4 separate regions of the Homo sapiens genome follow, and all the other regions are reported to be linked to region 1. Evidence: microRNA targets listed by miRTarBase, many of them from high-throughput screens and not tested one by one. Region 1 holds a microRNA gene; each other region holds the end of a gene's coding sequence.
Evidence for each region. The annotated mature microRNA hsa-miR-29a-5p reads ACUGAUUUCUUUUGGUGUUCAG and lies in region 1 at 4,337-4,358, shown strand. An mRNA with a match to its seed (bases 2 to 7 or 8) in the 3' UTR can be bound and repressed. Matches are read on the target gene's strand: a 7mer-m8 pairs with bases 2 to 8, a 7mer-A1 pairs with bases 2 to 7 and ends in A, and an 8mer does both.

Region 2: miRTarBase lists TMOD3 as a target of hsa-miR-29a-5p. Seed matches in the 3' UTR shown: 7mer-m8 at 1,570-1,576 and 7mer-m8 at 3,409-3,415.
Region 3: miRTarBase lists GPR82 as a target of hsa-miR-29a-5p. Seed matches in the 3' UTR shown: 7mer-m8 at 6,599-6,605 and 7mer-m8 at 5,897-5,903.
Region 4: miRTarBase lists SLC38A7 as a target of hsa-miR-29a-5p. Seed matches in the 3' UTR shown: 7mer-A1 at 1,929-1,935.

The regions. Positions count from the first base shown.
Region 1 is chr7:130,873,721-130,881,143 of GRCh38, reverse strand. MIR29A (microRNA 29a) reads left to right here and starts at 4,334; the gene lies at 4,334-4,397. It overlaps MIR29B1 (microRNA 29b-1), which reads left to right and starts at 3,605; the gene lies at 3,605-3,685. LINC-PINT (long intergenic non-protein coding RNA, p53 induced transcript) reads left to right here. Exons shown (of 8, transcript NR_170176.1): 8 at 1-152. RefSeq lists a silencer at 5,585-5,784 and an enhancer at 5,580-5,874.
Region 2 is chr15:51,907,393-51,914,815 of GRCh38, forward strand. TMOD3 (tropomodulin 3) reads left to right here. Exons shown (of 10, transcript NM_014547.5): 10 at 1,384-7,423. The coding sequence ends at 1,418. Among named protein-coding and RNA genes, the nearest start is that of LEO1, 61 kb to the right of the region's middle. RefSeq lists an enhancer at 966-1,135.
Region 3 is chrX:41,727,774-41,735,196 of GRCh38, reverse strand. It overlaps GPR82 (G protein-coupled receptor 82), which reads right to left. Exons shown (of 3, transcript NM_080817.5): 3 at 5,067-7,423. The coding sequence ends at 7,160. The region is part of intron 5 of CASK (calcium/calmodulin dependent serine protein kinase); the gene reads left to right. Among named protein-coding and RNA genes, the nearest start is that of GPR82, 7.3 kb to the right of the region's middle.
Region 4 is chr16:58,660,177-58,667,599 of GRCh38, reverse strand. SLC38A7 (solute carrier family 38 member 7) reads left to right here. Exons shown (of 12, transcript NM_018231.3): 12 at 113-2,491. The coding sequence ends at 215. Among named protein-coding and RNA genes, the nearest start is that of SLC38A7, 21 kb to the left of the region's middle.

The DNA.
Region 1 (7,423 bases):
CCCTTTTTAATTTATCAACTGGTTTTCTTCCATCTCTTTACTAGTGAGCCATGGGGGTTTTTTGCCGTTAACTGGGTAGCCAGTCTCTTCATGGAGACTTATTTTCAGGAAACTAGCCTCTTGCTTTATGTGAAAACAAGGACCCAACTCAAGATGTCTTATCACAGTGTGTTCTGTTGCGTAACAGTTGCATCTGTAGTCCAGCCTCAATACTCAGGTTGGGACTGTTTTGTCCTGATGTCTCGAACATTTCAAAGCTACGTTCTTAAAGAAATGTCCTGCTCAGATAGAGCTCTCCTTGTGAAATCCTCAAACCCCAGGGGAAGTGACCTTAAGCCAGTTTGCTGGCTTTTCATGTCACAGAAAACAATCGACTGCCACTACTCAGCTGTTGCCACACAGGAGTACCTGGCGTGGTCACTACTTGCCAACTCAGTACCCCACTTTCTCCCCAAGGACATAAAAGCAATGTGGGAAGATATACCAAATGACCTTGTCACACTGGGCTAATATGAAGAGCCCACAGATGCAAAATAATGTATCATACCTTTATTCTTCTGATTTTTTTTTTTTTTTTTTTTTTCGGAGACAGTCTCACTCTTTTGCCCAGGCTGGAATCCAGTGGCGCGATCTTGGCTCACTGCAACCTCTGCCACCCGGGTTCAGGCAATTCTCCTGCCTCAGCCTCCCGCCCAGCTAATTTTTGTATTATTAATTAGTAGAGAGAGGGTTTCACCTTCTTGGCCAGGCTAGTCTTGAACTCCTGACCTCGTGATACACCTGCCTTGGCCTCCCAAAGTGCTGGGATTACAGGCGTGAGCCACCGTGCCTGGCCTTTTTTTTTTTTTTTTTTTTTTTTTTTTGAGATGGAGTCTGGCTGTATTGCCCAGGCTGGAGTGCAGTGGCATGATCTTGGCTCACTGCAACCTCTGCCTCCCAGGTTCAAGTGATTCTCCTGCCTCAGCCTCCTGAGTAGCTGGGATTGCAGGCATCCCATACCCGGCTAATTTTTTTGAAACAGAGGCTTGCTCTGTCACCCAGGCTGGAGTGCAATGGCACGATCTCAGCTCAGTGCAACCTCCGCCTACTGGGCTCAAGCAACTCTCCTGCCTCGGCCTCAGCCTCACTACAGGCATGTGCCACCACGCCTGGCTAGTTTGGTTTTTTTTTTTTGTATTTTTTTAGTAGATATGGGGTTTCACCATGTTGGCCAGGTTGGTCTCAAACTTCTGACCTCAAGTGATCTGCCTGCCTCAGCCTCCCAAAATGCTGGGATTACAGGTATGAGCCACCACGCTTAGCCTTCTGCTGAATTTTTGAGAAGCATACATAAAGACAATGTAAAAAACTTAGCATATTTGTTTGGCCCTGCTAAGGGCATGGTTGAATATATAGTGTGTGTGATGTATTTGGTGTATGAGATATATATGATCTTATCAGACATAAGTAAAAGAAATTCATTCTTCAGGAAAAATTTTCCCCATAACTGAAGTGTCAATCATTTGAAAAAACTTCTAGGCAGTAGGCAAACACTGTGACTAGTTATTTATCAAAAATAAGCAGACTTTAGAGTTTTGTAACTGATGAGAATAATCTGGCTGCTTCTTTTGTACTTCAGTCACTGATACTGCGAATTAGAGTAGCATATACAGAAGGATGCAGGGGGTCCCTAAAGGAATCACAGAATTAGTGAAACCATTATTTGAGAGTTGCAGTGATTCTTCTGTCCTGGCACTTTTCCCAGTTTTGGTGCTTAAATTTACTATCCACTTGAAATGTGTCACTGCCTGTCACTTCACAAAGTATGTGCCTTTCACTGCAGTCAACAAGCTGTTTACATCTTTGATGAAATGATTGCCACGCATCTCCATAGCCCTGGTGTTCTATTCCCTTATTCACAGAGATTTTTTTTAAAAACCAGCCTAGCAGCAATAGGTATGTGCTGTGGATGCTTCTCCATGATGATAAAGGATGAGTTTGTGCTGGGATCTCCTTATGAAAAGATAACTGGCCAAGCCCATGAGGAACAAGAATGTTATGCTAATCAGACCCAAGGTAAACAGCCTGCAGTGCACCTCCTGACTGATTAGCACTGAACCCACTTGGAATCATCAACCACAGGCACGTGGTAATTGGATGTTCTTCTAATACACATAGTGAGATTGTAAAATGAGGATGATATATGAGGAAAGTCAGACGGAGAAACTAAAGTTCAGTTCTTAAATACAAGCCAAGGGAACAGACTAAGTGAATGGTACAGCCAGGATTGGAGCCTGGTTTTCACAAGGTGGTATGTCATGATAAAACAAGCCAAAGAAAAGGTTGGGTAGTGTTTTGAGGCTAAAAGAGACCAAAGAGTCTTAGTGAATCAACCTTGATGCGATCTGGGTTTGAAAAACCTATAAAAAACCTTTTGTTTGGAGAAAGTGGGAGAAGTTGGATGTAGGCTGGATATTTGTGGGTACCAAGGAATTGTTTGTTTTCTTAGGTATGGTAAGATTTTGTGGTTATGTAGAAGAGTGTCTTCATTTTATAGAACGACCTCAAAGTAGTTAGGAGCAGTGTATGTATGGGTGGTTATCAATTTACTTTCAAACAATGCAGCAAAAAATATGTATCTATATTACATATAATTAAAGCAAAACATGATAAAAAGGAATAGTTATTGAATTTAGATAGTATGGATTTAGGAATTCATTGTATTGTCATTCCAATTTAATGTATAAAATTTTTTATAACAGTTTATAAAAACAGTGCACACCCCTTTAATTAGGTGGCCTGGGTACATGAAGTATCTTTTTGGATGCCTAGAACACAAAAAGGGACGACAACAGGCCACCTAATAAGATGATACCAAGAACTATACCATGACGGCGAAAAAGAACTGCTGCAAAAAATAATTTGCCAAGGAGAACTCAGAGTACAAAGCCTTACCTTTGGAGTAGAGGGAAGGAGAGTCTTAAGTAAAGCTCACAAAAACCCCTAACTCATAGATGCAGTCTAAGGAATTCATTCCGGAAGCGACATTAGCATCTCATTAGTGCCATTATGTGACTTACTTGGCCTCTGAGCTAGTCTATTTTCTTCCCTAGACCCCAAAATCTCAGTAATCCTTTGGATCCAAGTTATCTCCAAGTGAAAATAATAGGTTTAGGAAAGCGTTTTTCTTCAACTTCTATGGAGCACTTGCTTGCTTTGTCCTATTTGCATGTCCGACGGACGGTTCTCCAGCACCACTGCTAGTCGTCCTCCGCCTGCCTGGGTACTTGATCACAGGATGCCTCTGACTTCTCCTGCCTTTACCCAAGCAAAGGATTTTCCTTGTCTTCCCACCCAAGAGTGACGGGGCTGACATGTGCCCTTGCCTCTAAATGATGAAGCTGAACCTTTGTCTGGGCAACTTAACTTAAGAATAAGGGAGTCCCAGGCATGCTCTCCCATCAATAACAAATTCAGTGACATCAGTTTATGAATATATGAAATTTGCCAAAGCTCTGTTTAGACCACTGAGTAACTCACAGCTAGGTTTCAACTTTTCCTTTCTAGGTTGTCTTGGGTTTATTGTAAGAGAGCATTATGAAGAAAAAAATAGATCATAAAGCTTCTTCAGGAAGCTGGTTTCATATGGTGGTTTAGATTTAAATAGTGATTGTCTAGCACCATTTGAAATCAGTGTTCTTGGGGGAGACCAGCTGCGCTGCACTACCAACAGCAAAAGAAGTGAATGGGACAGCTCTGAAGTATTTGAAAGCAACAGCAGGATGGCTGTGAGAACCTGCCTCACATGTAGCTGACCCCTTCCTCACCCCTGCCAACAGTGGTGGCATATATCACAAATGGCAGTCAGGTCTCTGCACTGGCGGATCCAACTGTGATCGAAAGTTTTCCAAAAATAAGTTGTGTCTGTATTGAACATGAACAGACTTTCTTCTTGTCATTATTCTCTAACAATACTGCATAACAATTATTTGCATACATTTGCATTGCATTAAGTATTCTAAGTAATCTAGAGACGATTTAAAGTATACGGGAGGATGTGTGTAGGTTGTATGCAAATACTACACCATTTTCTATCAGAGACTTGAGCATCTGTGGATTTTGGTATCCAAGGGGCTTTCTGGAACCAATCCCTCAAGGATACCAAGGGATGAATGTAATTGTACAGGATATCGCATTGTTGGAATTTTATACTTCTTTGTGGAATAAACCTATAGCACTTAATAGATAGTACAGACTCATTCCATTGTGCCTGGGTTAAAGAGCCCAATGTATGCTGGATTTAGTAAGATTTGGGCCCTCCCAACCCTCACGACCTTCTGTGACCCCTTAGAGGATGACTGATTTCTTTTGGTGTTCAGAGTCAATATAATTTTCTAGCACCATCTGAAATCGGTTATAATGATTGGGGAAGAGCACCATGATGCTGACTGCTGAGAGGAAATGTATTGGTGACCGTTGGGGCCATGGACAAGAACTAAGAAAACAAATGCAAAGCAATAATGCAAAGGTGATTTTTCTTCTTCCAGTTTCTAAGTTGAATTTCACTGACCTGAATTGCATGTGGTATAATACTAACAAATGGTTCACTATTAGCATATCATGAATGGTTATACTTTATAGAAATTCCATAGACTTGGTGGGGGTTTTGTTTTGGTGACGGATACCTAGAAACACTCCTGGGGAAAATCGATGACTGGCTTAGATGATGGGAAAGGAGCAGCGAGGGAGTCAATTCTGTTGTTGATGAGAAGCTGCACCAGCTATCTCTGAACTCTCCTCTCTTAGCTGGCTGAGGAGTTCCCTCCATGGTTAAACAGGTCATTTTCTTACATAAGGAAAAATGGTCCAGAGAAACTGGGTTTCTATGGCTGAGACAGAACTGTGCTAATATGTGTCAGTTCAGTTTAGAAGGCAAAGCAACAAAAGCAGGTGCTACTTGAACTAGGATCCTAGAGTATACCTTTGATATGGTTTGGATGTTTGTCCCCTCCAATCTCATGTTGAAGTGTGATCCCCAGTATTGGGGGTGGGGCCTGGTGGGGGTGGTTGAGTGATGGGGCGGATCCCTTGTGAATGGCTTGGTGATGTCCTCACTTAACGAGTTCCTGCTCAGTTAGAGGGAGCCGGTTGTTTAAAAAAGCTGGCACCTCCTTCCTCTCTCTTGCTCTTTCTTTCTTGCTCCCTCTCTCGCCATGTGACATGTCTGCTCCCTCTCCGCCTTCCACCATGTATAAAACATCCTGAGGCCTCATCAGGAGCCGAGCAGGTACCAGTGCCATGCTTGTACGGCTGCAAAACTGTAAGCCAAATAAACCTCTTTACTATATAAATTACCCAGTCTCGGGTATGTCTTTATAGCAGCGCAAAACGGACTAACACAACCTCACTAGAAGTGAAGTCATTAGACCAAAAACAATACTGAGTTTTTAGGTCCACTAAGAGGCAAAAATAAAAGGCTCTTTATAGCAGCATGATTTATAATCCTTTGGGTATAAGCACATGTATGCTAGAACTTAAAGTATAATAATAAAATATAAAAATAATAAAATAAAATAAAAGGCTCAAGAATGAGCCATCTCGGCCGCTCCTCCTCCAGGGGCCCCTGTGTGCAGCTCCCAACACAGGTACTGCACAGACCGGCCACCTGCTGTCCCCATGTGGCGTCCTGGAGAACTGCAGGGGCACCTGGTGGAATTTGGGCCTTGTCCTTCTGTTTTCTTTCTGGCCTGGAAAAGCCACTGGCCTCACAATCAAGAGTTAATATTCTATCTACCCTGCTTAAGCTTTCCCGCCCTCTCACACTGCCTCCCTCCTTTTCCCTCCTGCCTGTCACTTGTCTGGAAAAGGCCTTTTCTCCTCGGGGCTAACACATGCAATTTGTAGCCAAAACATTCTGTCTACCACACAAATCCAACGAGAATCAGGATCATTCCACCACATCTTTTTCTATCCCATGGTTATTATTTTCCCAAAACTCTTGTCTTTTGCTTTCTTACCTATTCGCTGTTTTCCCTAAGTAATCTTATTTACTCCCCTGGTTCCAAATACATCCCTATGTGTTGATTTCCCTCAAACCAGAGGTCTGGCCTGGGATATTTTTTGAGACATCTTGCTTTTTATATTTTTAGTAGCTCCTAAGTATAATAGTTCAGCCTGCTCTTCTAAACTTGTCTCAATTTAATCCATTTATGCTTGAGGTTGCAATTTTTTGAATTTTTGCCATCAGACCTTGGCAATGACCTTGAGCAGTAGGAGACAACTCCCACATGCTTAGCATTCCAATAATGGAACACTAGGCATATACCAAAGCCATCCACATTGCCTTCTCCCCAAAGCCAGCTCTCCCTGCTCTGCCCCATGGTGAAAGCTGCGAACACCAGAGGTCTGTGACCTCTTCCCTCTCCCTTACCCACATCCATACTCAGCACAACTTGTTGCTGTTCTCTCTCAATTCTCTCTTTAGGATCCATCCCTTTCTCTGCTCTTCCTAGACAGCTTTCTGGGCCCACCCCTCGCCATTAGTCTAGCTTTGTTATAGCCACCAGTTAATCTTTGTAAAATACATACGTGAGCTGGGCACGGTGGCTGGTGCCTGTAATCCCAGCTACTCAGGAGGCTGGGGCAGGAGGTTGCTTGAGCCCAAGAGGTTGAGGCTGCAATGAGCCATGATTGCATCACTGCACTCCAGCCTGGACGACAGACCAAGATCCCATCTCTTTAAAAAATAAAAATAAAAATTGTTTAACCACATGACCTTGCTCCTTGTCCCTCACTTTTAGCTGAACTCTTATAAGTGTGTCAACCAGGTACCAGACCCTTCATGACCCCATGCCTACCTGTGTCACCATCTTCTGGCTGTGCTTCCTGGGGCCTGTGTTCTGTGCTCACCCAGCTGCTTGCTGCTGAGAACACTCAGGTATCTTGGCATTTCTTAGCCTGTGTCTGTGCTATTTCCTCTGCCCACATCTCCCCTCTCCTCCTCCTCGTCAGCTAGGGACCTCCAGCCCCTAGGGACTGTAAGCTAGGGACCTCCAACCTGCAGCCCCTGGCTCAGGTGTAAACTTGTCTAGGAAGCCTTCCTCTGCCTTCTGCATCAAGGCTTAGATCCCTGGGCAAAGGCTTTCTTCTCTGTACCCCTTCAGAGCCTGATGGCACTTCGCATGTTATATTCTCATGATTGATTACCTACTAGGCTTCTCTGCAAGGCTGGAAAATCCTTGCTCCTAGGAGGGACGGTAGACAAGAACAAGACATACTGTGTACACTCCATTCTTACATTCCACGTGAGCTATCCTTTGTGTAGGTGTCTGTGGCAAATCTTCCTTCTAGGCTGCAGCCTCTACTTTTCATAGTTTCTCTCCATTTTCATCTGCCATGTGCATGAGGAATAAAAACTACTTCCAATGATGACCAAAATAAGATG
Region 2 (7,423 bases), not on the chromosome of region 1:
ATACTTTAGTCCTTCTGGTTTTATTTTCAAGCAAGCACCCAGCCTATGGCTGAACAAGATTTTATATACGTCATCTGAACGTATGGTCTTATCTATTAAAGGCCGACAAACAGAAGTCAGCAGTCAGAAGAGCACAAGAGCAGAGTGTCTATGGCCTGGCCAGGACACCAGGTGTACCTGTTGGCTTCTAGTTCCTCTGTCAAACAGCCAATTTAGGCCAAAGTACACACTACAGAAGTGACAGAGCCATGATTCACTCTATTTGTCATCAACTCTGGAACCTGTGGTTTTTGTCCTCTCTAGGAGCCGGCCACAATGCTGATAGCCCTGAATTGGTGGCCCTCAGTGAATGCTCTCTAGTGGCTGATAGGTGAGAGCGCAGGTAGCAAGATCTGAAGTTGAAGACCTTGTTCTGCTACTAGAGAACACCCCTGAGTAGTTTGACATCACCAGTCCAGGAAGAGGCTGGTAGTCTCAGATACATACATGTACCGTTCTTTGCTGTAAAAGCTGAGCTAGTTGACTGGCCACTTAGGCAGCCAAAGTTTATGGTAGCCGGAAGTGACCACACCATATTACCAGGGTCTGAGATTTTCATTACTTTGCATTTGTTGTTTTATCAGACCCTGAACTGGTTTATATTACAGGAGACAAAAGAAGGAAAATTCAGAAAGCAGTAGCAAATCACTTACCTATAAAAATGACAAAAATGTTTTTGGTATATTCTTTTACAGCCTAAGGAAATACATTGTAGTGTCTAATCAGGAGAGCATGCAAATAGTTACTTTTAATATGTTCTAACCCCAGCTGCCTGAATGTCACTTCAAAATTTAACACACTAATTTATTAGCTGTTTTTTAAAACCTGAGTATGTACTTTTTCAGTAAACAAATGACTTGGGCTGGACGCAGTGGCTCACACCTGTAATCCCAGCACTTTGGGATGCTGAGGCGGGCAGATCACTTGAGCTCAGGAGTCCAAGACCAGCCTAGGCAAGATAGTGAGACCTAATGTCTGTTTTATTAATAAATTACAAAGTTAAAAATAAACAAAAACAAATGACTTGTAGATGATTGCTGACCATTCTGTTTTAGATTTCTAGTGCTGCTGCTGTGTAAGCACAGCTATGAGTCATTGAGCTTAGGGCATGTAATTCTTTTGTTGAAGCCCCTTGGTTCTCAACAAGTAAATGACAGTGGTGAATGATGGGAAGTAGGTTGTTTTTTTTTTTTTTTTAATTAGTGGTCATGTGAACTGGAAATGGACATTTCAATTTTGTAAAACTTATAACTGGATTATGCAGAAACTTGCTTGTTATAAGCAAGTTACCATTGTAAAAACTAATAGGGATTTCTAACATAGTTTCTTTTATTTTTCTCATAGTGCGTAAGAGACGAGTTGAAGGAGATCACCAGTAAGTCTGCAAAGGTGTAATCTTTGGAAGACTTCAGAAGATCACCAAGGGCTCATGTTGGTGACATCATGTAAAATTTTCCTGGGTAGAAGGGAAAAGACTGGAAAAATTTTTTTAGTGACATGCATTTTTTTTTTAGTTGTTATCAAATTGTAAAATCAGTAATGTGATATTTTATATTCTGAAACATTTCTACTTTCTGCTAAAATCAATTTTAATTTAGTTTAATTGAATGATTTATGATGAATCTTGGGCAAAAAAATACAACTGTAAAAAATTTCACAGGTCATTTGTGTAGAATAATTTGAACATTGTGAGGACCAATCTTTTTTAAATCAAAAGGGATGTTGCTGGTATCAGAATTGTTATTGCTTCATTTAGACATAAAACACTTAAGTGTTTTCTTCACTCCGTGACCTGGAGAGTTTTCCATTTTTTAAAATACATGAACTTGGCAAGGGTGTGATTTTTCTTTATCAAGAGAACAAAATGCCAGAATGTTAAAACAGTTAACTCAAAATCTAGTCATCTGTGTAGGAGCTAAAGCAGGTCTCCAGGGAGAGAGGGTGGTCGTCTGTGCATTCCAGGTTACTGCACTTGTCTGATGTGACGTAGCAACACCCAGGTCTTCTTAAAACAAAGTCATCAGCTTTGCCAGGTTACATACTTTATTTAAAAGTATAGTGAGGTCGAAGTTCATTCCAGTGTTTCATTTTAATAATGTGGGCATTATTAAATTTTTGTGGAAGCTAATAGTAAAAAATAAAAGCTGTTTTCACCACCTCCCTCCCCACCCCCCAAAAAAGGCGTACAGCCAACTCTTAGTTATTTAGGGTAAGAGAAAAAAGAAAACTGTTAAACAATGAAATCAAAGATAATAAATATGATAGATTTCCAGTATGAGGCACTTGCAAAACAGTCATTTAAACTGATGGTTACTGTAAGTCAGTTGGAAGCTGGCATGTATGTAAATTACTTGGTGTTACACCATATCCGAAGAAGTTCCTATGTGCAGTGCAGAATTGCATAAACAGTATTTAATCACTGCTACAAATCTTCCAACCAAGAAGGAAAACTGCTATTCTTCATAAATCTAATTTTTAGTATATGCTTCCTTTCATCTTATACTTTTATCAATATTTATAAAAGTCATTTCTATAATAAAAGCAGTCTTTCTTGCTCAAAGTATTAAGGTGAACAATTGAATAGAGTACTGTGGTCGGGAGACTGATTTGAGACTGCAGAGCTGATGCTGGGTAGAGGGTCTGGACTTGTATTCATGTTCTGTCTCAGGGCAGCCCCTGGAGCAGGAGATGGCAGAGGCATTTACAGCTGCAGAAAACAGGGAGGAATGGAATCTGAGGTAGCCCTGGCCTCAAAATTCAGGCCTGGCTGTATCATTTACAGAGATTTTTCTGGAGGGAAAAGTCTCATTTCTGAGGAAGGCAAGGTGGCTAATCATTATTAATTTTTTTTAAACTTTTTGGGCCGGGCGCAGTGGCTCACGCCTGTAATCCCAGCACTTTTGGGAAGCCAAAGTGGGTGGATCACTTAAGGTCAGGAGTTCAAGACCAGCCTGGCCAACATGGTGAAACCCTGTCTCTACTAAAAATCAAAAAAGTAGCCGGGTGTGGTGGTGCACACCTGTAATCCCAGCTACTCAGGAGGCTGAGGCAGGAGAATTGCTTGAACCTGGGAGATGGAGATTGCAGTGAGCTGAGATCGTACCACTGCACTGCAGTCTGGGTGACAAAGCAAGACTCTGTCTCAAAAAACAAACAAACAAACAAACTTTTTGAAATTGAATTGCAATATGTCTGCTACTTTGGCTTGGGCTGGACAGTTTATCTAATAAGCAAGGCAGCTTCTTGTGTGCTATGGTAATAAGCCTTCTTAACAGGCTAAGCTTCCCTCATAAGAACTGTGGTGTTTCTCTTTTTTTTTTTTTGTTTTGGTTTGTTTTGGTTTTTTGGTTTTGTTTTGTTTTGTTTTTTAAATCAGTATCCAATGTTTTATAGGGGCCAAAGGTTAACTTTGCACTATTCCCTGTCAGTTAAAGGCCACTGATATTTTTCTAAGTTAGCAAGGCTCACTTGCTTGCTTTCTTGCCTCCCTTGCCTCCATCCCTCTCCCTTCCTACCTTCTCTATTTACCTATTTCTCTCCCTCCCTCTCTTCTCCTCTCTTTTTTTTTCCCCGCATATGCAGCTTTTTGATTGTACTTGATTTTATAGAGACTGCACAGTTCCAGCAAGATTGGGAGTCAGGCATGGAGCAGGCATCTCAGGCTACCAGAAAGAATTGGTCACCTAGACTTTCAGTCAGGCATCCTCGTTTGCATTGTCCTGTAAGTCAATTAGTTGATAAATAGTTCCCCCTTCATCCCTTAAGTTTTGTTTTTGTTTTTGTTTTTAATATAGGTAAGTGGGACTCTACCTAAAATTTTGCATCATACTTATGGGTAATATCTTTTTCATATATTATTTATCAAAGTATGAAGTTGAGTATTTTGCTTGTACCATTTCAATTCTGCATTATAGTAGTTCATTGTATAACTGAAAGAAATGATTTCTTCATAAGTGACATTAAATATGAACATTCATCCAATTGAATTTACAAAATCTTTCCAAAATTATAAGGGAGAAAAATCGGGTTTACTTCAATCTTTAAAAATCTGGCACCTCTTAGTAACTTTCAGTATTTCTAAATTGCTCTAAAATTTTATAATAAATAGATTAGGGTTTTGCAATAGTCTTAATTTTTAAGCCAAAGGTTTTCTGAGACCTTAGGTTTTGTAGTCTAACCAGCTTATGTGGTTATTTAAAAGAATATTCTTTGTGTTTTTAAATTGCTATTTTTAAAAAAGCTTTTTATTACCCATTTTATAAAATGTTATACTCATATTTGTCTGAATTTTTCCAGTATTCCTACATGAAATTGTATGTATTAAAAACTCAATATTAGTGGCAAATATTAATACTATTAAAATGGATTTTGGTGCTATATTCTTGTAGCTAAAGCCTAGTAGAATTCTCAAGAATAGGTGAAATACACTTTCAAAGTTGCCTGTCATTTAAAAGACCAAATAAGCATTTTGTATTAAATAAATTAGCAGATGGTTAGAGACTTCAAGGAGAGTTAGCTTGGTCATTTAATTGCGACTTCATGTTATTTGATTGAAATAACCCACATCCTTGCTTTGTATAAGATATTCGCTCTGGAGAAGTTACATGTAAATAGAATTCTATAAATTGTTTTCCAGTTGACCGAGTATCTGTTGTGTTTTTGTTTAAAAAGAGGATTCCATGACATAATAAAAATTATTTTAAAAAATGTTTTGGGCCGGGTGCGGTGGCTCACGCCTGTAATCCTAGCACTTTGGGAGGCCGAGGTGGGCGGATCACCTGAGGTCAGGAGTTCGAGACCAGCCTGACCAACATGGAGAAACCCTGTCTCTACTAAAAATACAAAATTAGCCAGGCGTGGTGGCACACACCTGTGATCTCAGCTACTCGGGAGGCTGAGGCAGGAGAATCACTAGAACTCGGGAGGCGGAGGTTGCAGTTAGCTGAGGTCGCGCCATTGCACTCCAGCATGGGCAACAAGAGTGAAACTCCGTCTCAAAAAAAAAAAAATTTTTTTTTTTTTATAAAATGTTACTCATATCATATTGTACGTTATATTTAACTCTTGCTGTCATTAAAATAAGATGACAACATTTATGAAGTTTTATAAAATCTTACATTTTAGGGTCTGTGTTCCCAGGGCTGCCTCACTTTTTCCCTAAAAAACTAGGAACCACTGTTAACCTCCCAGCAGATGCAAGGATCATGCTTTCTCTGGAGTCCTTAGTCACTTCCATTCTTTGCAAGTTTAGTACTGCCCAAATTTACTCATTCTACAGTGTTACTGCACTTTGAACGTATTGACCCATGTCACCCAAGAGAAGCAAACATATGGATGCACTAGAGACAACTCGGGTTGCTGCTCTCAGTTAAGGGCTATGAGTTCTTGGGGTCTAAGTATCTGTAAAATTATCCTCTCCATCAGCTCTCACTGATCATTAATGTTTCTGGATATTTCTTACCCTAAGATTTGCTTACCAACAAATCAAAGAAACGCTTCACTAATTATTTTTAAATTGAGAAAATAGTATTCAGAGGCAAAGATTTTTATATTCTTTTTTGAGACCAAGTCTCACTCTGTCATCCAGGCTGGAGTGCAGTGGTGCGATCTCAGCTCACTGCAGCTTCCACCTCCCAGATTCAAGTGATTCTCCTGCCTCAGCCTCCCAAGTAGCTGGGATTACAGGCGTCCGCCACCACGCCCGGATAACTTTTTGTATTTTTAATAGAGACGGGGTTTCACCATGTTGGCCGGGCTGTTCTCAAAGTGACCTCAGGTGATCCACTCGCCTCGGCCTCCCAAAGTGCTGGGATTACAGGCTTGAGCCACCACACTCAGCCTTATTCTTATATTTTAATTTGGTCATTCTTAGATCTACAGATTGAACATCCCTAATTGAAAACTTTTTGAGTACTAACATAGTGTTCAAAGGAAATGCTTATTGGAGCATTTAGAATTTCAGATTTTCAGATTAGGGATGCTGAACTGGTGTAATGCCCAGTATTCCAAAATCCAAAATAATTTGAAATCTGAAACACTTAATGGTCCCAGCATGTTGGATAAGGGATACTCAACCTGTATTGATTTTTCTCCACTATAATTCAGTTCTATAAGTTCTTCCCTATAAAAAATGAATGAATTAGAAATTTGATAATAAAACATATTTTATTAATTTTAAACTCTATCTTGCAGTCTGATCATTCAGAAAGGTCAACCTAGAAAAAAGACATGGCTAAGTAAACTATTTTAAGCCATAACTAAGTATTTTGGAAAGCCTTCATTAACACATAAAGAATTTTGGCCAAGTACTGTGGCTTATGCCTGTAATCCTAGCACTTTGGAAAGCCGAGGCCGACGGATCACTTGAGCTCAGGAGTTTGAGACCAACCTGCGTAACATGGTGAAACCCCATATCTACAAAAAGTACAAAAATTAGCTGGGTGCGGTGGCGCATGCCTGTAGTCCCATCTACTCGGAAGACTGAGGCAGCAGAACCGCTTGAGCCTAGGAGGTGGAGGTTGCAGTAAGATGAGATCATGCTGCTGTACTCTAGCCTGGGCAATGAGAGTGAAACTCTTATCTCAAAAAAAAAAAAAAAAAAAGAGCTATACTCATAGTACTTTGGGAGACCAAGCAGGGAGGATTACTTGAGACCAGGAGTTTGAGACTACCATGGACAACATAGCAAGACCCCATCTTTACAAAAAATTTAAAAATTAGCCAGACACCTATAGTACCAGCTACTTAGGAGTCTAAAGTGGGAGAATTGCTTGAGCCTGGGAGGTTGAAGCAGCAGTGAGCTTTGATCATGCCACTGCATTCCAGCCTGGGTAACAAGAGTGAGACTGTCTCAAAAAACAAAACAAAACAAAAAAATGGGTTTTTTTGTTGTTGTTTTTGTCTTTTACTTAGGACACCTGCTCTAGAGGCTAGATAAAAATAGATTGTAATGGCCGGGTGCAGTGGCTCACACTTGTAATCCCAGCACTGTGGAGGCTGAGGTGGGCGGATCACTTGAGGTCAGGAGTACGAGACCAGTCTGGCCAACATGGTGAAACCCCATCTCTACTAAAAATACAAAAAATTAGTTGGGCGTGGTGATGCGCACCTGTAATTCTAGCTACTTGGGAGCCTAAGGCAGGAGAATCACTTGAACCTGGGAGGCAGAAGTTGCAGTGAGCCGAGATTGTGCCATTGCACTCCAGCCTGGGTGACAGAGTGAGACTCCATCTCAAAAAAATATATGTATTAAGAAATACCACCAGCAGTGTTTTGCTAACATAGCTGTAACAAATTATTAAGTTCTTTTTTTTTTTTAAGATGGAGGTTCACTCTTGTCGCCCAGGCTGGAGCGCAATGGTGCGATCTCAGCTCACTGCAACCT
Region 3 (7,423 bases), not on the chromosome of region 1:
TTTATTTCTCTAAGAAAAATTTATTTTATCATCTGTTTCATCTAGCCAAGAATATTCTCATTCTCTCTCTCTCTCTCATAATTCTTGGCATATGATCCAAAAGCATTACATTTCCCAAGGATCCTGTTATTATATTTATTAATACTTTTTTCTTTACTTTTTTACAAAAGGTATTTCCTTTTGTAATCATTGTAACTGAGTCTTAAAAGGATTATTTGGTTAGATTTGAATATATGGTACCATGTAATCTATTTTTGGGAACTGCTTGCTCTGAAGAAGCAGTTTCACATAAAACTGCATAAAAAGCAATCATATAATCCTTTGAAATTCGAGAGATGTGTGAACATAGTGCTGGGCCTCCCCACAGCCACACTTAGTGACATATCAGGCTATATTCTTTGCTGTGGGAGGCTGTCCTGGGAATTGTAGGATGCTGCTAAGCATCCTTCACCCACTAGATGCCAGTAGCATCTCCCCCTAGTTGTGACAACCAAAAATGTCTCCAAACATTGCTAAATGTCCCCTGGGGCACAAAAATTGTCCCTGGTTAAGGCCCACTGTCATAATAGACTGTTATAATTCTCAAGATTTGCCTCCCTACAGGTATTAATTAAGGCATGCATATAAATTTCTATTTTTTTCTGTCATCTTCTTCCCTTTAATTCTACTTTTTCTTGTGAAAGAATGTGAAAACTTTCATTATGTTTCTGGTATTTTTTTTTCTTCCTCTCACCCCTAAATTAAAAGTACTTTAGAAAGAAATAGCACAGTTGTCAAGGTAAATGCAACTCCTGGCTCTTTGCCTTCTTTCATGGGCTCTACTAAGCACTGAGAGTTTGTGGAATTTTCTCCTCTCTCCTAACTCTTGCAGGCAGCCTTAGATCATGAGGTTGTGGGGAGACTTAGTTTTAGACCTTTCTGTCACTCTGACCTACTCATGTATAATTCTAATAACTGAAGTTGAAGTGAAACAGTTTCTCTGAGAATGCAAATTGCTACCCACAATCACTTTCTATTCTGAATGGTGCCTGTGCCCAGAAGGTCTGGGTGCTGTTTTTAGTTCTTAGAACTGTGCAAACCCCAGTCACACACACACTCAGCCAGAGGCCAGAGTGTTTCTGAGTGTGCTTCCTTTAAATGGTTTTCCTTGCTAACCTGTGTGAACACGCCTGGCTGCTTTTTGGTTCCCTTCTGGTCTCAGTTCTCCTTTTACCTATTTAAGGCCAGACTTTATGATAAATTTGTGTTTATCATATAACACTGGTTGGCATGACATTGTGGATTTCTTAAAGCATTCCGTAGTCTCTTGTTCTCCGTTACTGATGTTTCTTTTACACCTGATACCACAACTCCCCAAAGTTTATCATGTTGTATAGAGAAATTTAAATTCTCATAAAACAAAAACGTATTTATTCTTTATTTATTTTATTTATTTATTTATTTTTTTTGAGACAGAGTCTCACTCTGTCGCCCAGGCTGGAGTGCAGTGGCGCCATCTCAGCTCACTGCAAGCTCAACCTCCCAGGTCCACGCCATTCTCCTGCCTCAGCCTCCCGAGTAGCTGGGACTACAGGTGCCCGCCACCATGCCCGGCTAATTTTTTTGTATTTTTAGTAGAGACGGGGTTTCACTGTGTTAGCCAGGATGGTTTCGATCTCCTGACCTCATGATCTGCCCGCCTCAGCCTCCCAAAGTGCTGGGATTACAGGCGTGAGCCACCGTGCCCAGCCACTATTCTTTATTATTATATTAACATTGGTTAATCTTCTGCATTTCTTTTATAAGATTTTTTAACATAATGTGCACGTTCAGTTTTAATGTGGCATTTTAATAATTGTACTTAGGAAGATCTCATGGATTACATGATTATTATAAATTTATCTTGTGTTTCTAACTGCTATACTTCTCTTTGCCCAGCCTACTCCTACAAAAAAAGAAATCAACTCCTTGGTTTTAAGTTTCTCAGCCTGAGCAACATAGTAAGACCCTATCTCTCTCTCTCCTTTTTTTTTTTTTTTTTTGAGATGGAATCTCGCTCTGTTGCCCAGGTTGGAGTGCAGTGGCACGGTCTCAGCTCACTGCAACCTCCACCTCCCACGTTCAAGCAATTCTCCTGCCTCAGCCTCCTGAGTAGCTGAGATTACAGGCGCCTGCCACTACGCTCAGCTAATTTTTTTTATATATATATTTTTTAGTAGAGACAGGGTTTCACCATGTTGGCCAGGCTGATCTCGAACTCCTGACCTTGTGAGCCACCACGCCTGGCCAGTAAGACCCTATCTCTATCAAAAAATAAAAATTAGCCAGGTGTGTTGGCACACACCTGTGGTCCTAGCTACTGGAGAGGCTGAGGCAGGAGGATTGCTTGAGCCCAGGAGGTTGAAGCTGTAATGAGCTGTGATTGTATCACTGCACTCCAGCGTGGGCAACAGAGTGAGACTCCATCTCAAAAAAAAAAAAAATTCTTTTGCTTATTAGAAGTGAATCCTTTTACTGTTCCTCTCCTTCTGAGCCAGGAGTAGCGTGTGTGATATAGCCAGAGGTTTTTCTGTCAGGTGCAACTATAGCTGTAGTAACTCTTCCCAGTGTTATCAATTCCATTTGAGTGTAGGGGCCATCAGAGGAAGGTTTGTGGCATTAGGCTGCTGGATTGAAATGCTTATGCTTAGCAGATTACCAGTGTTCCCTCTGTTCTCCCTTTGTGGTTTGCCGGCAGGATTTCCTTTCACCTTGTCTTCCCAGATTTGCCCGTAACTCCCACCCTGACAGAGCACAAGGCCAGTGATAGGCCTAGAGTCCTCAGCAAATTGAACAGAATGGGCCATCTTCCTCTTCTATCCAGGGAGTAGAAACTTACTTCCCTGTTAAGTTGTTTATCCTAAATTTTGTCTAGTCTTAATGGTTTGTGTTCCTGATTATAGTTTGAAAGCTGCCTTAATGAGAGTATGTGTATGCCTGTTTTCTACAGTTTAAGATAAAATCTTGTTGGCCTTTGAGTCAAAATTTGAGATTCCTGAAACCCCAAATTTGTGTTTGACTGTAACTCACACAGACACATTAAAAACACTGTTTTTTTGAAATCCAAACTTTAAAATAGGGTAAGTTTTGAAGGTGATTTTAAAACCAGGCACAGTGGCTTGCACCTATAATCTCAAAACTTTGGGAGGCTGAAGCGGGAGGATCGCTTGAGCCCAGGAGTTCAAGACCAGCCTGGGCAACATAGCAAGAGCACATCTCTACAAAAAAAAAAAAAAAAATACAAAAATTAGCCAGGCATGATGGCACACACCTGTAGTCCTAGCTACTCAGGAGGCTGAGGTGGTGAGATCACCTGAGCCCAAGAGTTTGAAGCTGCAGTGAGCTATGATCACCACTGTACTCCAGCCTGGACGACAGAGACAGACCCTGTCTCCAAAAACAGAAGTGATATTTTAAGTAAAATATTTACTATGCCATTAAATAGCCAGTTCTTCAATTACATAAAAAAATTCAACATGATTTAAAATCAACTGTTTAGGAAAGCATCTATGGTGTAAAGATATCCATGATGATAATGAGCTGAGTATATAGTTCATTCTTCAGTATAGGAAATTAAAATGTGAGTTTATCAGAATGAGTAACTTAAAGAGAAATTGCATATCTCTTTTCCTGCCTTTTTAAATGTAAGAATCTCTAGAAATATTTTTTGTTTAAAGTAGTGGTAGAGCTGTAAAGTGATTGTTTTTTAAATAATTATTTTTAGAAGTTGTATTTTTTGGGTTTTTTGTTTTTGTTTTTGAGACAGGGTCTCGCTTTGTCACCCAGGCAGGAATGCAGTGGTGCAATCATGGCTCACTTCAGCCTCAACCTCCTGGGCTCAACAGATCCTCCCACCTCAGCCTCCCAAGTAGCTAGGACTAGAGACATGTGCCACCATGTCCAGCTAATTTTTCTATTTTTTGTAGAGACGTGGTCTCACTATGTTGATCAGGCTGGTCTCAAACTCCTGGGCTCAAGTGATCCCCCCACTTCAGCCCCCTGAAGTGCTGGGATTACAGGCATGAGCCACTGTACCTGACTGGAAGTTGTATTTTTTTAAAACTCCTAAGTCCAGTGAGATTATTACATGCAGTATAGCTTATGTTAAACAAACATTACTGTCTTAGTCGGATGAGTTTTGGTCTCAAAACTCATGTAAGAATAAAACTACTTAGTCTGGGCACAATGGCTTGCCCCTGTAATCCCAACACTTTGGGAGGCCAAGATGGGCAGATTATTTGAGCTCAGGAATTCGAGACCAACCTGGGTAACATGGCGAAACCCCGTCTCTACAAAAAAATAACAAAAATTAGCCGGGCATGATGGTGGGCACCTGTGGTCCCAGCTATTCAGAAGGCTGAGGTAGGAGAATCACTTGACCCCGGGGGGGTGGAGGTTGCAGTGAGCCAGATCACGCCACTGCACTCCAGCTTGGGTGACAGAGTGAGACCCCATCTCATAAAAAGAATAAAACTACTTTTGTAACTGTGGAGAAATCTGTGCATCTCAGGAACTCTCCCTGATGGACTTTGAGTTACTCTATGATTTACATGTCTAGAAATCACTAGATTGGACACTTCCATTTACAGCTAGCATTCAGGGCGGTCACCTCAAGTTCCCAAATCTCCTTTGTCTCTGCACATTAATGAGCCAAAAATCCAATTACTACTATAAACGAATTGATACTCACTGTAAATATTTGAAGCCAGAATGTGTTCAGACTTTTCTCAGAACATTTTCATGTCTCAGTTAAGCATCAAAGTAGAAAAGGAAAAAAAAATTTACTGGGTTTTTGTGTGTGTGTGTGTGTGGTTTTTTGTTTGTTTGTTTTGCCCCCGGAATAACCTCTGGTGATTTTTGAACACATGGCTCTTGGGCAATGTACTGTGAATTGCTTTTACAGCTCTAACTCAGGAACAAAACATGCTATGAGATTAAAGCCTTGGAAGGATTACGTGAACTTACTTTAAACTTCATTTTGGACACTGAAGTAATTACTATGTGAAGAAAAAAAGGAGTCTTTAAGCAGTCTCTAACAAAGTGGCAAGTTACTATTAATGGTTGATTTTATTCAGCTGTTTTTGTTTGGTTATCTGAGAAGAGAATATCAGTACCATGGAAGTAGAAATAGACAAGAAGTTTATAGCTCCAAAGTGCTTATGATCTCTTTGGGCAGATAGTACACGCTTTTTTTTTTAATCATAATATATGTACTTATTACAGAATATAGTCACCATCATTTGTCTACTGACAAGATTACATGAAAGAAAAGAAATTAACATTAAGAAATGCTTATCTTTAAATGTTCACTTAAATATTAGAAAAAATTGGGGTGATTTACTTAACTATGCACATATACATACATACATACATATATATATATATATATATATATATTTTTTTTTTTTTTTTTTTTTTTTTTTTTTTTTGAGACAGAGTCTCACTCTGTCGCCCAGGCTGGAGTGCAATGGCATGATCTTGGCTCACTGCAACCTCCGCCTCCTGAGTTCAAGTGATTCTCCTGCCTCAGCCTCCCGAGTTCAAGTGATTCTTCTGCCTCAGCCTCCCAAGTAGCTGGGACTACAGGCACACACCACCACGCCCAGCTAATTTTTGTATTTTTAGTAGAGGTGGGTTTCGCCATGTTGGCCAGGCTAGTCTCGAACTCCTGACCTCAGGTGATCTGCCCACCTCGGCCTCCCAGAGTGCTGGGATTACAGGCATGAGCCACCGCACCCAGCCCACTTCAATATTTTCATCAGTAAATTAGTATACTTTAGAGTTGTGGTGATTAAAATAATATATGTAAAGCATATAAGTAGAATGCTTGGCAAACAGCAAGTGCTTACTAAGCGTTAGCTACTCATAATAGTAACAGCTGATTTAATAATAGGATCTGTAAATAAGATAGTATTTTCTGCTCTACAAATGAAGAAATTAACACGTACAGAGGATAAGTTAATTTGCCTAAGATTGTCCAGCTAAATAAAAAGTAGAGCCAGATTGAACCCAAGAAGTATAACTTCAGAGATCAATCTCTTAACTGCAATACTATTACACTCCCTTATTATTCATTCATTTATTTCACAAAAAATTAACTGCCAGGTACTGTTTGTCACTAATAACATTATTTATATTGAATACAGAAGAAAATATGCACAATGTGATGAAGATGGGCATATAATGACATAGCTTTTTACTTTGACAAAGCCTAATCCAAATATTTAAGCATTTTTATAAGTATCATCTGCTTTAAAAATATAGTCAATGAATATTGCTTCTCCCCAATAACATGAGCCAGATAATTTCAAATAAATAATATGTTTATAAAACCTTGGATTTTTTTCACTGTATTATTCATGCATTTAGGTAAGATGTGAATGAGGATATTTCTTATTTATTTTTTTACTTATTTTTATTTTTTTGTTTTGTTTTATGAGACAGAGTCTCGCTCTGCCTCCCAGGCTGTAGTGCAGTGGCACGATCTCCGCTCACTGCAACCTCCGTCCCGGGCTCAAGCGATTCTCCTGCCTCAGCCTCCCGAGTAGCTGGGATTACAGGCGCCCACCACCATGTCCAGCTGATTTTTGTATTTTTAGTAGAGACAGGGTTTCACCATGTTGCCCAGGCTGGTCTTGAACTCCTGACCTCAAAATGATCCACCCACCTCAGCCTCCCAAAGTGCTGGGATTACAGGCGTAAGCCACTGTGCCCAGCTACTTATTTTTAAAGATTTTAAAATTACCAATAAACACTAGCCATAGATTGACCCTTGTATTCTAACTACCAGAAAGCAGACAAGTCATAAACCATTTGCTTCTTTATCCTAGTCATGAAATAACGTGTTCTGAACAGAAGCACTGACAGTTGAGTTTAAACAGAAAACAGCCTGTTAGTTTCATATGAGTGGGATCCTTTCAATATGCTTAATTTTTGCTTCTGAAAGTTTCTGCCATCTCAACGTTCAGTATAACTGTTTTTTGAGTTTTATGAATATATGTTTATTTATTTTTAAAAACCAAAGAGATTTTCTTGGTGATTATTGTCAACCAAGCTGTGACATGTTAATGATGTAGTTTAGTGTCCCTAATAAAGTCACATGAATGCTTTTCTTAATATTGTGGGGTTTTCCATTCAAAAGTCAACCATATGATTGCATATGTGCTGAATTAGACTTTGTAAAGAGATTATATAGTGTCTTCTTGAATGTTTTATCTAATAAAAGAAATATAATGGGGTCTGTGCTACTTCTGGCCGAAGCAAGACAGGTGAGAATGTTTTTTGTTTCTATTAAATAATTCAATTGCTGACAGTTATCTCTTTGGTGTAGAACATAAAAAATGGGTTTAAAAATACTATAAGGAAGGAAGCAAACTATTAGTAGAATCTGGATGACCAAAAGATG
Region 4 (7,423 bases), not on the chromosome of region 1:
TCTACCAACAGGAGAAGTGCGATAATTACAGTAATTAACAGTTATATATATTGAAGTCTGCAGTCATGGGATGGGATGACTGATCAGACCTCTCTCACCCTCTGTTCTACAGCTGGTGGGTGCTGGTCAGCTACGGAGTCCTCTTGGTCACCCTGGGAGCCTTCATCTTCGGCCAGACCACAGCCAACGCCATCTTTGTGGATCTCTTGGCATAACCACTGCCTCCCAGGGAACACAAGGCCTTTGCCATTGGTCGCAGGAACCCATCTCTTAGAGCTATGGGGCCATTCTTAGTCCACGATCATTCCAACTGGTGGGATGACATCCGGACATCCTCTTCCAGGGACTGGGGCAAACTCAGGCCCCACACCTCTGGACAGCTCAAATCCAGTCCCCTTCCTGCTCCCCAGTCCTGGCAGTGCCGTGGATGGCGGCAGGAAGTCTCACATCATAGAGGACCCCTCCTCCTCTCCCAGTTCTCAACTTCTCCATGCCTGGAATCCACGGGTGAAGAGAGTCGGTAGATCTCATAAGAAAGAATCCAGTCTGACTTCCCTCTGGAGAATGACTATGGACAGAAGGCCACCATCCTCCACAGAGCACCCTGTCCTGAGTAGGGGTTGTGCTCATTACCCCAGGCCAGTGGTAGCTTCCTCAGGAGCCTGGCCACTTCCAACGGTAGCACTGAAGTCATGCAAATGCATAGTCAGGTAGATTCAGACCTTGTCCACACCTTCCTGGGCAACCCCCACCATGAACCTGTCAGCCTCTTTCCCATAGCTAATAGACATTTCCCAGGCCTTGAGGGGCCCCACCCTGTCTCTTTCATCAAACCTGATGGTCCAGGCTGGGCATCCCTCTCCTCCTCCATCCCCAGACATCACCAGGTCTAATGTTTACAAACGGTGCCAGCCCGGCTCTGAAGCCAAGGGCCGTCCCGTGCCACGGTGCTGTGAGTATTCCTCCGTTAGCTTTCCCCATAAGGTTGGGAGTATCTGCTTTTGTGTCTGAGATGGGCCCCTCTTTTCAGAGGCCGCAGGGTGGGTGATGGAGAAGGCTGAGAACCTTTCAGACCCTCTGTGTGGGCTGGGCTGGTCAGAATCAGGGTGTACCTCCCCGACACCTTCTTTTTCAGTGATGTTTTCTCTTCTTCCTGCCTTTCCTCTGCCTCCTCCCCTGCCAGCCCTAGCGTGACTACCCAGAGACAAAAAAAAAAAAAAAAAAAAAAGGCAGGGCTGGGCGCAGTGGCTCACGCCTGTAATCCCAGCACTTTGGGAGGCCAAGGCGGGCAGATGACTTGAGGTCAGGAGTTCGAGACCAGCCTGGCCAACACGGCAAAACCCCATCTCTACTAAAAATACAAAAAATTAACCGGGCATGGTGGCGGGCACCTGTAATCCCAGCTACTTGGGAGGCTGAGGCAGCAGAGCCGCTTAAACCCAGGAGGCAGAGACTGCAATGAGCTGAGATCGTGCCATTGCACTCCAGCTTGGGCAACAAGAGTGAAACTTCATCTCAAAAAAACAGAAACAAACAAAAAGGCAGCTGGGTTGTCACTGATGGGCAGCATTTGAGCCTGCCACACTGGCCTGGAAGTTTCCCTTCCAGTCTGGATTTTGTCTGCTCCTTCCTTCCCCCTCACCCCGTTACCTCTTCACCTCCCATCTCACTTCACTGTGTAGCTCAGTCTCTCCCACGCACATAATTGGGGACAGTGGGGGCTCTCTTACCAGCCTCCTCAGCAACGCACGTCCATCAGGCCTGGCCTCAGTGGCCAGCCACATTGATGTCACACTGGAATTGTTACCCCAGAGAGGGCGAAGAGATAGGCTATCTCCCCACCTCCCACCCTACTCCCCACTATATTCCCGTTTTGACCACCTCAGCCCCTCAGCTGCCCCCTCTCACTTTGGCCAATCCCAGGCACCAATCAGACTTCCTCCTCCACCTGGAGCCCCTAGCATTTCCTTGTCCCCTCTTCCCCAAAACCTCTGTAAAGGGTACGAGAGGGACCCCCTGCCGAGCCGCCCGCCACTCAGGGCAGTCCGATCTAAGAAGCAGAAGCTGGTTGGAGGCTGGCTGGGCCTCTGTCCAGTCCCCAGATGGATAAACTGCCTTTTCTCACATCCCCTCTTGGTGCCTGATCTTCTCTGCCCCCGGGGCCAGACCCACTGTGCTGTTTTCTGTCAGTCTGTGGCACAGCACCAAGCTCTGCCAGCACCAGTCCCTGACAGGGCTAGGAGGACAGCCTGGTCAGCAGGGCTGCAGTCCCCCAGTGCCGTGTTTCGGGGGTCAAGGGATGTAAGTGGAGTCATTGCACAGAGACAGACCAGTCAGGAGAAGGAGCTGGAATCTGGCCTCTTGTCCTAACCTCAGGAGCCCCCTCCCATCCTCTCCCCACCCTCCCTATCGGGGTACTTCACTGTTTCTTTTCTACTTGTGTATACTCGAGAAAGGGAAGATGGTTAATAAAAGGGATTTGTGCTGCTGAGCCGTGTCCCCTGTGTCTGATCCTGGGGACAGAGTCCAGGCCACTGCCAGGAGGAAGAAGGGCTGGGGTAGGAGGTGTAGATGGCATGTCACTGTCTCTGACCCCTATCTCCGGAATGGCACCGCCATGCTCCCTCTACCAAGCAGGGACCTGCAAGTGGCTCTTGCCACCCCTGCTTTCTTCCACATTCTACCTATCCTTCTCCAGTGACTTAGGAATGTATCGCAGTCTCCAATCCTGCGACCTCTGCCTTCACTTAAGCCCTCACTGTCTTTCCTGTGCCTTTGTGGTCTCAGACTGTCCCCCTGACTTCAGATCTTGGCAAGAGCTTTAAACTCCTGAGTATCCACCCCCATCTTTTCAGAGGCGAGCGTTGAGCAGGTCCCAGCTGTCTTGGTTATGGAGCCACCAGTCACCACGCTCAGTGCTGGCAAGAAAACCAGCAAAGGCCAGGTGTAGTGGCTCACGTCTGTAATCCCAGCACTTTGGGAGAACAGGGTGGGCAGATCACCTGAGGTCAGAAGTGCGAGACAAGTCTGGCCAACATGCTGAAACCCTGTCTCTACTAAAAATACAAAAATTAGCTGGGCATGGCGGCGCATGCCTGTAATCCTAGCTACTTGGGAGACTAAGACAGGATAATTGCTTGAACCCAGGAGGCAGAGGTTACAGTGAGCCGAGATCACGCCATTGCACTCCAGCCTGGGCAACAAGAGTGAAACTCTATCTTAAAAAAAAAAAAAAAAAAAAAAAAAACCAGCAAAACAGACTCCAGTACTGCTCTCAGCCTAGTTGTGGGAAGACTGATGCTAAGCAAGCAATGACACAAATATACACTTCCAAATTGTGGTTAAGTGCCAAGGAAGGAAAATACAGTGTGTTAGTCTGGGGGCTGGAAAGTTGTCTGGGGAGTCAAGGAAGACTTCCTGGAGGAAGTGATGTTTGAGCTGGCCTGTGACTGATGAGTAGGAATTAGTAAAGAGAGGTGGGGAGACTTTGCCAAGCAATGGAAACTGCATGTGCGAAGGCCTTGAGCTGGGAGGAACATGACTTCAGGAACTGAAAAGTGGCCAAGGTAGCCAGACATTGACTGTGTGTTGGGAGGTTCTTAAATGACTCCCTCTTGCCTTTAGGGTCAAGTCTAACCAACTCATCTCTCACCACACTTCCCCTCTCCGCTCCAGCCACACTCAAGTGAAGGTCAGGCTCCAACTCCTAGTAAAAGTGGGGGACTGACCCTGCAAGGAAGAAATACTTCAGAAAGGCTCGAAGGGTAGGGTGGCTTTGGGCTTTGGGCCTGACTAGGGAGCGAATAACGAGGTTGAGTTTAACCGTCTCTCAACAGAAGGAAGGAAAGGATGCGTCTACGCCACAGGCGTACTCCAGTGCAAACAGCCAAGTTCATCCATTCATACACTTCACTCAAGACATCCTCATCCTGGTGTGACGGGTGGATAATGAGAAATTACTTAATGGATACAATGTACATTATTTCAGTGATGGATACACTAAAATCCCAGACTTCACCATATGCAATATAGCCACGTAACAAAATGGTATGTGTACCCCTAAAATGTATACAATTTTTTTTTTTTTTGAGACAGAGTTTCCCTCTTGTCACCCATGCTGGAGTGGTCTTATTGCCCAGGCTGGAGTGCAATGGCGCAATCTCAGCTCACTGCAACCTCCACCTCCTGGGTTCAAGCGATTCTCCTACCTCAGCCTCCCAAATAGCTGGGATTACAGGCACCCACCACCATGCCCGGCTAATTTTTGTATTTTTAGTAGAGATGGGGTTTCACCATGTTGGTCAGGCTGGTCTCAAACTCCTGACTTCAGGTGATCCACCTGCCTCGGCCTCCCAAAATGCTGGGATTACACGTGTGAGCCACTGTGCCCAGCCTACAGATTTTTGAAAAAAGACATCCCCATCCTAATGTCCCAAATACTTGTAAGCACTTGGTTAATGTCCATCTCTCCCATTAGATTGTAAGCTCTATGAGAGCAGGCTTATGTCTTCTTTACCCACCAGGCGCCTCCACCGGTGCCTGGCACAAGCGCTCAGTAGTTACTGAAAGAATGAATGAATGAATAGCAGCGTTTGTTGAGTTCTTATATTGTGCTGACACTTTACTTGCACAATCGTGGTCTTTACATTTCTATGAAGAAGCAAAAGCTAAGAGAAGTTAAATATTTTGCCCATGGTCCCACAGGTTGTAAGACTGGAGGCAGACAGTGCTTTTAACTTGCATAAATAGACAAGTGAGCAGGCCAGGTGCAGTGGCTCAGGTCTGTAATTGCAGCGCTTTGGGAGGTGGATTGCATAAGGCCAGGAGTTCAAGGCCAGCCAACATAGTAAGACCCATCTCTGAAAAAAAAAATATGAAAAAAGCTGGGCACAGTGGCTCACACCTATAATCCCAGCACTTTGGGAGGCTGAGGCGGGCAGATCACTTGAGGTTAGAAGTTCAAGACCAGCCTGGCCAACATGGTGAAACCCTGTCTCTACTAAAAATACAAAAATTAGGCGTGGTGGTGGGCGCCTGTAATCGCAGCTACTCAGGAGACTAAGGCAGGAGAATCACTTGAACCGAGGAGGCAGAGAGGTTGCAGTGAGCCAAGATTGTGCTACTGCACTCCAGCTTCAGCAACAGCAAGACTCAGCCTCAAAAAAAACAAAAACATATATATATAGTGCTTACCTGTAGTCCTAGCTACTCAGGAGGCTGAGGCAGGAGAATCACTTGAACCTAGGAGTTTTAAGGTTACAGTGAGCTGTGATTGTGCCACTGCACTCCAGCCTGGATGACACTGCAAGATCCTGTCTCAAAAAACAAAAAAGAAAAGAAATGTACAAATTCAACTTCTTCCCAAGAGGCCCCATGTTGGGGTTTCCCTGCCACCTCCTGGGAGTCAGGGTGTTTCTAAGACGTTTTTTTTTTTTTCAGCTGGAGTCTCACTCTGTTGCCCAGGCTGGAGTGCAGTGGCGCGATCTTGGCTCACTGCAACCTCCGTCTCCGGGTTCAAGCAATTCTCCTGCCTCAGCCTCCTGAGTAGCTGGGACTACAGGCACACGCCACCACGCCCAGCTGATTTTTATATTTTTAGTAGAGACAGGGTTTCACCATGTTGGCCAGAATGATTTCGATCTCTTGACCTCGTGATCCGCCCACCTTGGGCTCCCAAAGTGCTGGGATTACAGGCGTGAGCCACCGCGGCCAGCCTGTTTCTAAGACTTTAACATGCATACAAGTGCACACAATTATCGCAAATCCCCTGGTGGCTCTCCTTGGGCTATAAATTCTGATTCACTAGGTCTGGAGTGGGGCCTGAGGTCTGCATCGCTAACAATCCCAAAGATGCCAACGCTCTGGTAATCCCTGAGCCACACTTTTGAGTGGCAGGTGCCTCGTGGACAGCGCGGAGTCGTTGGCATCAGACAGACCTGGCTTGAATCCTAGCGATGCCTCTTAATACTGTGAGAACTCAGGGAGTTACTTCACTTCCCTGAACTTCCATTTCCTCATCTATAAAGCGGGGTGATGATGCCCACTTTGTAGATGTAGACATTACAAATGCAAGGATGATGGCATAATAATACATGTCAAGTGCCTGGCCAACAGCAGTGACTATGTCAGTCATTTTGCAGAACTAGAAGGAACAGGGAATGTATAACGGCCGTTTCTTCCTTTGGTCAGTAGAGGTCACCTTTGCATAATCTCTGCTCATGAAAGTGGGAACCCTGTAGCTACAGAAGAGACTCCAGGCCTCTGAGTCACTGGAGCTCCTGGAGACTTGGCTGCTGCTTGGTCCATCTGAGTGACACCCGTATACTAAGGCAAGGCCACTCTCAGTCACAGCCCAGAGCCTGATGGGGGAATCAGACCAATTGAATAATCGCAGATGCTAACTGTATAGGTACATACACTAGATATAGATACAGATATTACAAACCCAGATTTGGTACTGAAATAATTTGGTAAGAATGTTAGGTATGATACAATTTAAAAAATGTCAGTAGATGTGGAGGAAGGCCAGAGACTTTGCAGACAGGAAGAAGGTAGACGTCCTGTCCTCCAAACTTGTCAAGTTTCCTAAGGGAAACAGACACAAGATTGATTCATTTGATCCTTCTCCCATTAAAAACAAAATTGGGGGCCGGGCGCAGTGGCTCACGCCTGTAATCCCAGCACTTTGGGAGGCCAAGGCGGATGGATCACGAGGTCAATAGATCGAGACCATCCTGGCCAACATGGTGAAACCCCATCTCTACTAAAAATACAAAAACTTAGCTGGGCGTGATGGCACATGCCTGTAGTCCCAGCTACTTGGGAGGCTGAGGCAGGAAAATCGCTTGAACCCGGGAGGCAGAGGTTGCAGTGAGCCAAGACTGCACCACTGCACTCCAGCCTGGGCGATAAAGTGAGACTCCGTCTCAAAAAAAAAAAAAAAAAAAAAAAAAAAAACAGAAAAAAAAACTGGGCTGGGCGCAGTGGCTCACACCTTTAATCCCAGCACTTTGAGAGGCCGAGATGGGCAGATCACTTGAGGCCTGGCCAACATGGCGAAACACTGTCTCTACTAAAAATACAAAATAAATTAGCCAGGCATGGTGGTGTGTGCCTGTAGTCCCAGCTACTCGGGAGGCTGAGGCAGGAAAATCGCTTGAACCTGGAAGGCGGAGGTTGCAGTGAGTCGAGACGGCACCACTGCACTCCAGCCTGGTCGAGTGTAAGATTCCATCTCCAAAAAAAAAGAAAAAATTAGCCCAGCGTGGTGGTACATACCTGTAGTCCCAGCTACTCTGGAGACTGAGGCACAAGAATCGCTTGAACCTGGGAGGCGGAGGTTGCAGTGAGTCAAGATCTCCCCACTGCATGCCAGCCTGGGCGACAGAGCAAGACTGTGTCTAAAAAAAAAAAAAGATGCATT